3 linked regions of the Homo sapiens genome follow. The protein of the gene in region 2 purifies or fractionates together with the protein of the main gene of each other region. This does not show direct contact. Each region holds a gene or a part of one and is shown on either strand. Other genes may lie near its edges. The genes, in order: CDIN1, UBN1 and ZNF606.

Evidence for each region.
Region 1: the proteins of UBN1 (region 2) and CDIN1 purify together in Homo sapiens (affinity purification with mass spectrometry, with the first as the bait; one large-scale study listed by BioGRID). This does not show direct contact.
Region 3: the proteins of UBN1 (region 2) and ZNF606 fractionate together in Homo sapiens (co-fractionation; one large-scale study listed by BioGRID). This does not show direct contact.

The regions. Positions count from the first base shown.
Region 1 is NC_000015.10:36,578,079-36,581,832, forward strand, and holds the start of CDIN1 (CDAN1-interacting nuclease 1), read left to right. Parts: upstream 1-1,547; 5' UTR 1,548-1,782; coding exon 1,783-1,883; intron 1,884-3,754. UniProt on the Homo sapiens protein: Plays a role in erythroid cell differentiation.
Region 2 is NC_000016.10:4,878,475-4,880,838, reverse strand, and holds part of UBN1 (ubinuclein-1), read right to left. Parts: intron 757-2,364; coding exon 707-756; coding exon of another isoform or gene 589-706; 3' UTR 1-588. UniProt on the Homo sapiens protein: Acts as a novel regulator of senescence. Involved in the formation of senescence-associated heterochromatin foci (SAHF), which represses expression of proliferation-promoting genes. Binds to proliferation-promoting genes.
Region 3 is NC_000019.10:57,985,671-57,989,324, forward strand, and holds part of ZNF606 (zinc finger protein 606), read right to left. Parts: intron 3,052-3,654; coding exon 2,925-3,051; exon of another isoform or gene 2,920-2,924; intron 2,633-2,919; coding exon 2,537-2,632; intron 1-2,536. UniProt on the Homo sapiens protein: May act as a transcriptional repressor.

The sequences.
Region 1 (3,754 bases), on a different chromosome or scaffold from region 2:
TTCCGGTCAGGAGTTTGAGACTAGCCTGGTCAATAAAGCGAGACTTCATCTCTAGAGAAAAATTTTAAAATTAGCCAGGTGTAGTGGCATGTGCCTGTAGTCCCAACTACTCGGGAGGCTGAGGTGGGAAGATCGCTGGAGCCCAGGAGTTCGAGGGTGCAGTGAGCCACGATGGAGCCACTGCACTCCAGCCTGGGCGACAGAGTAAGACTCCATCTCTACATCAAACATACACAAATAAAACACCTCCATGAATTAAATCAGTTTTACAGACAAAAGAAATGAGGCTTCGATGGATTAAGGAATTTATTCAAGGAGGTATATCTAAAACTTCCAACCCAGGCATTATTCCAGATGAAAAATTTTAAACCACTTACAGGTTCTCTAAAGTCTAAGCACCTTTGCTTTAGTTTGCTTAAATTGTTGAAATCAGAAGAGAAACACAACACATGACCTTCTAAGAACCAAACAGATTTTAGAAAAGAGATTAAATGAGGGACTGATATCCCAACAAATTGCTTTAGGAGAACTGAGATCCATTCACAATACATATAGAAAATAAAAAAAGATTGGCTCATTACTCCAAACATTTATTGAGCGCCTACTATTTTCTGAGAACTGGGGTTACAATAAGATGCGATTTTAGACCTTGAGCAGCTAACTGCAAGGAGTGAAAGTGACTTTTTTTTTTTTTTTTGAGACGGAGTCTCGCTGTCGCCCAGGCTGGAGTGCAGTGGCGCGATCTTGGCTCACTGCAAGCTCTGCCTCTCGGGTTCACGCCATTCTCCTGCCTCAGCCTCCTGAGTAGCTGGGACTACAGGCGCCCGCCACCACGCCCGGCTAATTTTTTGTATTTTTAGTAGAGACGGGGTTTCACCGTGTTAGCCAGGATGGTCTCGATCTCCTGACCTCGTGATCCGCCCGCCTCGGCCTCCGAAAGTGCTGGGATTACAGGCGTCAGCCACCGCGCCCGGCCAAAAGTGACATTCTTTACTGCCGGCTGTTTGATGACGTCGGATTTGTTTCAAGTCTGTTTCTCAACAAGGACAAAACTGCCTTCCACGCGATGTACAGAAGTTGTAGGGCTTCCTCAACACAAGCCAAATTATGTTTACAGCGACCCTAGTGAGTTTTCCTGCTCGGACCATGACAGACTTGGTAGAGTGAAGACATGGTTTCTCGGCAGGCCAGTCCACGCTCCGAGGAGCGCTCAAACTGGCGCGTTAGGAAGTGTATTCAAATCGCGCGCTCTGGCAGGGGCTTTCGGGGGCTCACGCTGAAGGATCGCGGGGCACTCGTGAGACCTGCCGCCTGGTCTGTGCGTCAGGCCGCCCTGGCTTCTAGTAATTGGGAGAGTACAAAGCATCCCTTGTTGACCCTTTGATCCTAGGTGGGCGATGCCCTGGATTCCTACCTGCCTACTGAAACTCTGGCGCGGCGCCTTTCCAAGGGCGGCCGCTACTTCCTGGTTGGTTTGCCCTTAACTGACATGGCGGCTAGTTGCCTTCGGCGCACCACTGCGGCTGCTCAGTAAGCCAAGCTAGGGCACTCTGGTGTACAGCCAGTCCCCGCCGCGGAGGTGCCGGTGGAGCCTGGGACCGGGCGAGTCTCCGCCCCGCTTTTGCAGCTAGGGGTGTGTTTCAGGGGGGATTGGGGCAAGCCAAGCAGGCGAGGACCCGGGCCTGTGCCGCTTTGCCTACCCCTCATCCCTCGGCACCAAGGCTACTTGAGCCCCAGGGTGTTTTTTCCTTGTTCCCGCCACCTCCTGGTCCCTGGCCCAACATGATACTGACCAAAGCTCAGTACGACGAGATAGCCCAGTGCCTAGTGTCTGTGCCGCCTACCAGGCAGAGCCTGAGGAAGCTGAAGCAGAGGTTTCCCAGGTAAGTGTCCATCTCTCCCCTCTCACAGCCCTTTGCCTGCAGCAGCAGTGCCTGGGCCGCCCAGGCAGCGCTTAGGAACCACGTGTCACACATGAGTGGGGAGGAACACCAGTGTCAGGCGTTAGGAGGTCGAGGTTGGCGAAAAAAGGTTTATTCTTTCACTCGCCTTCCACACAAAACTCTTAACGGTGAGTTCATGGCAGCCTTCCAAGGCCTTGCAATTAAATTCAAGTCAACAGATATTTATGGAAAACGTGGTACGTGCTAGGTGATGGGTGAACATAGTAGGTGCTTCATAAATGACCAGAGGTTAATTGACAGATAGTAGGAATGAATGATGGGTGGGAATATGAATTGTAGATTCGAAAGGAGCAAATGGAGGACCCTTTTCAATTGGCCGTTGGAAACAAACAAGGGAGCATAGAGGTAAAGCGGCTTCATACTGTTTGACTGTGGCTTGTACTGTTAACTGTGGAATTAAGTGACCTCAAGGGTTCTCAATCCAATCAGAGAGCAGGGTACCCAGGGATTCCACTCTTGGGTCATTGGCCATTTGAACAACCAGATCTAAAGTTTCTCCATATATGTTATGCATACACACATTCCGGGTGTATTTCATACTTCCTCCCCCAAACACTTCTTTTTTCAGCGATTTTAGAATTATCCAACTTTCTAAGAAAGGACTTTGGGAATTATGTAGATTTCTCATTTTAATGAAGTGGAAACTGAGACCCCAACATTACATGAGGAACCAGTTGAGGACAACCAGGTCACTGTATTTATGTTGTGTTAAAAGCAGAGAATGTTTGTTTACTTTTTTCCTAATGAAAAACCAAATCCAAACCTGTACCATTTTGTTTTGTGGCACTGAGCATGGTTATTCCTAATGGAGAGCTTCCCCATCCTTGACGTATTCAGTCCCTGAACAAACACGACAGAAGTAATTTCTTGAGAAAAGAAAGGTAATTGGATAATAGGTATCAAAGTACAAATTGAAGCATAAGTTTAAGTTCTGTTATGACTTTGCTTTTTGAAGGACTTGGTTTTCCTAGTCTGTAAAATGAAGGAGTCTCTTTTCAATATTATCCAGATTTGATTTAGGGCAATATTTATCCCTTTATAGCCTTTAGTATTTTATCAGACTTGCTAAGAAGGAACAAAATTGACACATAATTTAATTTTCTGTCATTAACTCTTGCCAGTTCTGCACATGAACAGTGAAATGGGTGAAGACTGGTCAGCCAAGGGAATAGGTAGATTTTTCTGGGCAGTTTTAAGAAAGAGCATACATTTTGATATTCTCCTCTCACTATGTATGCAATCACTTGTAATTTTGCTTTTTTTTCTCTTCCTCTCCCTCTTTTTCTCTTTTTCGTTCTTTTCTCTAGCAAATACCTTGTCTTCTCTATAATAAGTAAGTGTCTGTTACTTTAATCAACACTTACAAAAGCCTCCCTTCTGTCTGGTGTATTCTCTTATGCTCTTTTCTTTCTTATTCATGATATACTCAAATCTTTTTCACTTCTCCCAAATGCCATACAGGGAATAAATAACAACTCTCCTTCCACAGGAAACTTTATTTAGAGAGAGCTGAACTACTAATCCGCAAAAGAAGGGATTAAAGAGCTATTTAGGGCTGGGTGTGGTGGCTCACGCCTGTAATCCCAGCGCTTTGGGAGGCCGAGATGGGAGGATCACTTGAGGCCAGGAGTTCCAGATCAGACTGGGCAACGTAGCAAAACCCCGTCTCTAATAAAAATCCAAAAAATTAGCTGGGTGTGGTGGCATGTGCCTTTAGACCCAGCTACTCAGCTACTCCTGAGGCTGAGGTGGGTGAATCACCACATCAAGGTGATTGTTACCTTGTTGCA
Region 2 (2,364 bases):
GTCCCCTTCTATCCAATGCATTTAATGGTAATGATGAAAACTGAGCCCAAAATAGGTGTCTGTAAAAATCCTATCATAATTGTTGAATCTACAAAGGTCTTTTCTCTAAAAGAGCTTCATTGTCATGTTCCGAGGAGAAACTGGCCCCCACAGTGAGCACACCCTAGGTGTTCTTAGTATTTCGCAGGGACAGTGCAGGTCTCCCAGCTGTGGCTCTGGCCTGAGTTTTGTCCGCTTTGAGCACACAGCCTGGGGATGGGGCGGCACTGTGACCATCCAGGGAGCTTACTGCAGCCAGAAGGAGCCCCTGAGCAGTGGGGTGCTCTGAGGTACTCTGACCAAATGCCAGGGGATCAGGCAGATTCACCCACAGGTGTGCCAACTGCTCTGCCACCAGAGCCTGTAAACACTGTGCCTCCCACCACGGCCCAGCGCAAGCCCCAGCCTAGAGCTGCCCCTCTAACAACCGTCTAGCGACAGAGCTGCAAGGCCCAGAGCACGGGGCAGTCTGCACCTCCTGAGCAGCAAGGGCCCGGCTCCCTCCATGGGAGGCACATCAGAAGTGCCGAGAAGCGCTCCGCTGAGAACTCACGCTCCTCCAGAAGAACACCAAGCAGCAGAAAGGGCGCAGTGAGTGTACATCCTGGGAGACCTGCACGTTCTGATTCCACCCAGACCCAAGTGGCAAGCCTTGCCTCTGAAGCGGTCACAATTTCCGTGGTACAGCAGGCCCTTTCCCGTGAAGCTGAGAAGCACCTGGAAAAGAGTAAGAAAAATTAGAACGCAAGTTTTTCATGCTCTCTGATTTCCTTAAGGCAGTAGTAACCAAACTTCAAGGGAGACACCTAAATAGCAAAAGTCCCCAAATGCTGAGTGTTCTAGAGCTCAAACAAGCCATGAGACACCAGCCAGCAGTTATTCGTGTACACTACTCCTGGCCACAGCCTGCAAGCACACTAGCACTGTGAAGGTCGGTGGTCACTCAGCACAGTGTTTCCAGAACAGCAACTCTGCTGTGCAACTTGGGCTACGTCATCTCAGGCTACAATTGCCATCCTGAGGCGAGGCCTGACGATCACACAGAACTCAAGGCAGCAATGATCATTCATTCTCTTACCATCAAAAGACCCTCAGGTCCTGTAAAGACAAATTCAAAGGCACTAGCATTCTCAGTCCACAGAAGAAAGAAAGGAAAGCAACGCAGACACAAGTCACGCAGCTGAAATGCGCAAATAGCTTCTTACTCGCATCTCGTGTCATCCTATAAGCTGAAGTCCATCTAAGGAAGTGAGAGAAGCTCACTTGGATAACCCTGTTTTGGTATAGTTGCTTTTCTGATTGATTTTCTTTTTCCTCGAACTTTTAAACTGATTAAAAAAAATTTTTTTAGAGATGAGGTCTCACTATGTTGCCCAGGCTGGAGTACAGCAGCTATTCACAAGCATGATCACAGCACACTATACCCTCTGATTCCTGGGTTCAAGCAATCCTCCTGCCTCTCAATGCCACCACATCCAGCCTCTGAGAGCCTTAAACAGTTTTAAAAACTGACTCATAATAATGACACATATTTTATGGGGTACATAGTGATGTTTCAACATCTAAAATGTGTAGTGTCACGTTAGAGTTATTAGCATATCCATCATCTCAAACGTTTTTCATCTCCTTTTGCTGGCGACGTTCAATATCCTCCTCCTAACTGAAACTACATACTACTGTTAACTACAGTCACCCTACAGTGGTATAGAACACTAGCACTTATTCTTCCTATTCTGATAGCCTTTTCATACCCAGAGGAAAAATGAAAATATAGCAGAAAGCAATCTTTTGAGACAGGGTCTCACTCTTGCCCAGGCTGGAGTGCAGTAGCATGACCACGGCTCGCTGCAGCCTCGACCTCCTCGGCTCAAGTGATCCTTCTGCCTCAGCTTCCTAAAGAGCTGGGACTACAGGCACATGCCACCACACCTGACTAATTTTTTTCTTTAAATGTAGAGATAGGGTCTTGCCATGTTGCCCAGGCTGGTCTTGAACTCCTGGACTCAGGCAATCCTCCTGCCTTGGCCTCCCAAAGTGCTGGGATTACAGGTGATAGCCACCGCGTCCGGCCTCAATTACTTTGCTTTTCTGAGAGTAACATTCCTGAGAGTAAGCAAAGGCAGGGCAGCCTGACTTTGGAAAGACCCCTGCTCTCACCAAGGTGGCTCTGCAGCCTCTAGTCTGTAGAGAAGTCACTGCACTTTACTTCTCCTCCCAAGGAAAGGAGGAGTCACTAGTGCTATAGGCTTAGCCCCTCAAAGAAGCACAGTTTCCATTGTGGAGATTTACAGATTTAGTCTTGCCCCATATGGCCTCTGGTGTTTA
Region 3 (3,654 bases), on a different chromosome or scaffold from region 2:
GTAATCCCAGCACTTTGGGAGGGCGAGGTGGGTGGATCATGAGGTCAAGAGATTGAGACCACCCTGGCTAACACGGTGAAACCTGCCTCTACTAAAAATACAAAAAAAAAAAAATTAGCTGGGCGTGGTGGCGGGCCCCTGTAATCCTAGCTACACAGGAGGCTGAGGCAGGACAATCGCTTGAACCCAGGAGGCAGAGGCTGCAGTGAGCCAAGATCGCGCCACTGCACTCCAGCCTGGGCGACAGAGCAAGAGTCTGTCTCAATAAATAAATAAATAAAATAAAATAAAAGCCGAAGAGAGAATCCTGAAAGCAGAGAGAAGAAATTCATCACGTACAAGGGATCTTCAATAAGATTAACAGCTTGTTTCTCAGAAACGACTCAGGCCAGAAAGAAAGACAAAAAAACATGACAATCAAGAATTCTATACCCAGTAAAATTATCCTTCAAAAATGAAGGAGAAATCAAGAGATTTCCAGATAAACAAAACGCCACAGTTCACTGTTAGCAAACCTGTCCGACAGGAAATGCTGGCTGGGGATAGTGACTCACGCCTGTAATCCCAGCACTTTGAGAGGCTGAGGCAGGGGCATCACTTGAGCTCAGGAGTTTAAGACCAGCCTAGGCAACACAGTGAGGCGTGGTTGTGTGCACCTATAGTCCCAGCTACTCAGGAGGCTGAGATGGGAGGATCACTTGAGCCTAGAAGGTTGAGACTCCAGTAAGCCAAGATCATGCCACTGCACTCCAGCCTGGGCAACAGAGTGTCTTTTCTATCTCAAAAAACAAAATGGAAATGCTAAAATGAGTTCCTCAGGCTGAAATGAAAGAACATTCAACAGTAACTCAAAATAAAAAACAGCAATAAAGATAGCTACATAAGTATAAAAAGACAATATAAGTAAAATTCTTGTTTCTAGCTCCTTTTTTTCAGTCTGTTAAAAGACAACTGCATAAAGCAATAATTATAAATCCATATTCATGAACACACAATGTATAAAGATGTAATTTGTGACAAAACAGCATAAAAGGAGGAGGGCAGAGCTATACACAAAGTTTTGGTATACTATTAATATTACACTAGTATTAATCCAAACTACATTGTCATAAATTAAGATGTTAATTGTAGGGCCAGGCGTGGTGGCTCACACCTATAATCTCAGCACTTTGGGAGGCCAAGGCAGGAGGATTGCTTGTGCACAGGAGTTCAAGACTAGCCTGGGCAATATAGTGAGACCTTGTCTCTACAAAAAAAAATTTTTTTTTAATTAACTGAGCATGACGGTGCATGGCTGTAGTCCCAGCTACCTAGGAGGCTGAGGTGGGAGGACTGCCTAAGCTTGCAATGCAGAGGCTGCAGTAAGTCAAGATTGTACTACTGCACTCCAGCCTGGGCAGAAGAGCAAGACCTTGTCTCAAAAGATGTTAATTGTAATCCCCAGGGCAACTACCAAGAAAATAACTCAAGATTTTATAGTAAAAGAAAAGTAGTTACCTGTGTGTATGCCTCTGTGTATCTGTGTTTTGGGGGAATAACAGTAATGTGAGTAACAGCAGGGAGTAAAAATGAGTTATTTTTGGTGGTGTTTTTCAGACAGGGTCTTGCTCTGTCACTCGGGCTGGAGTGCAGTGGTGAAATCACAGCTCACTACAGCCTCAACATCCCAGGCTCAAGCAATCCTCACCTCAGCCCCCTGAGTAGCTAGGACCACAGACATGCACCATAAAGCCCAGCTAAGTTTTTTAATAAAGGAGATTTTTTTTTTAGCTTATACATTTTAAGTAGCTTTCAGATATTTGAACATTACCTATATTTTAAAAATCTATTTTGTTTGGTACCCACAAGATCTAAGTAAGAAAGAACAAAAGCCCAAGCCGGGAACGGTGGCTCATGCCTGTAATCCCAGCACTTTGGGAGCCCGAGGTGGGCGGATCACTTGAGGTCAGGAGTTCGAGACCAGCCCAGCCAACATGGTGAAACCCCGTCTCTACTAAAAATACAAAAACTAGCCAGGCATGGTGGCGGGTGCCTGTAATCCCAGCTACTCAGGAGGCTGAGGTGGGAGAATCGCTTGAACCCGGGAGGCAGAGGTTGCAGTGAGCCGAGATCGCACCACTGCACTCCAGCCTGGGCGACAGAGCGAGACTTTATTTCAAAACAAACAAACTAAAAAGCCCAAAAAGACTATTTTTTTGAAATAAGCATCTATAGCTATAGGTTACAAGTTTGGCAATACAGGAAATAAGGAAAATATTTGAAGTAGCTACATGGATAAGAGGTAACCTTAGAGGCAACCTTAGAGGAAGGGACCGCAGAAAACAGGAGCCATCAAGAGCCGACAGCGAGGGAAAATGGCTACCTTATTAGGATGGTGATGCTTCTTTGCTCTAAATCAAAAGCAGCAAGAGAAGAAAGCTCCTTAGAGGGAATTCTAAATGCATCTGAGGAAGGTAACTCTTCATGGCCTTATCCCATTTCTCAACAAAGAGGGCTTGGGGGGAAGTTCCTTGTTCAGCCTGGGGTCTGCCCTCACCTGGACAAGTGCGTTGAGGACATGCCTGCTCCACTGACCACGGCTCTTCTCCTTGCTCCAACAGGGAGATGACCTCAGGCTTGGCAATCTGATTTCCTATGCATGGAGGAAAAGCATGGAAATCATGTCATGAGGCTTCAGGACAGCCAAAGAAAGCTTCTCTTGCCTATTCCTCCCTGTGACTTCTCAACCTGGGCAGAATATGCAAGGTCCTTCCCACTCCATGCTCTTTAAGCATTAGGAGTTTCATCCCTGAACCTCAGGGCCCAAGATCATCTCAGCTCTTCTGAGACACCACCCTCGCCCCTGCAATGAGCTTCTAAACATGGAGCAGCTGAAGGCATTACCATGGGAACAGCTTCGTTTACTTGGGCAGCACCTGCCTTACCCACAGAGAGCAGGTGACCATAGGTCTCCAGCATCACATCACGGTACAGGGTCCTCTGAACAAGGTCCAGCTGCCCCCACTCTTCTTGGGTGAAGTCCACGGCCACGTCCTTGAAGGTCACTGGTTCCTAAAAGAACACAAACGTTCCTTCTCAGCCTGTGACCACCCCCTCCAATATTTCCAGGGATGGAGTGAGGCTGACAGCCCTGGGGAGAGAAGACAGGATGTAGAGAAACTCTCCTGGTTATTCAAGAGTCTGACTAATGTGAGTCAGGTCTCATTGAGAACCACCCAAGACCTCATATTTGTTATATACTCTTAGGGAATTAGATACCTGGGTCCACAATAACCACAGCAAAGCTGAGCAGGTCTCTTCGAAGACTCTTGCCAAATTCCAGCACACTGGCTATGTCCCCCACCTTGGCAACACCCCTCTTCTGGAAAGGCAGTCATATAAAAAGGCCTGGACCAGTGCAGCAACAGGCTATGAGCACTGGCTACAAGCGAGACCTTGAGGATGGAGTCTTTGCTCCGACACCCAGATAAAGGACCTGAAAGGGTGATCTGTACATTCACAAGTTGTCTTTCCAGCCATGGTGGGGAGGTTTCCATTCTCAGTTCATCTCTGTCCCAAGGACTGAAGCTAAGGGTGAGCAGGATGCCCCAGAGCAGCCCAGGCCAAGGAGAATCGGTTACAGCTGCCATTAAAAGCACATTAGTTACAAGCAAT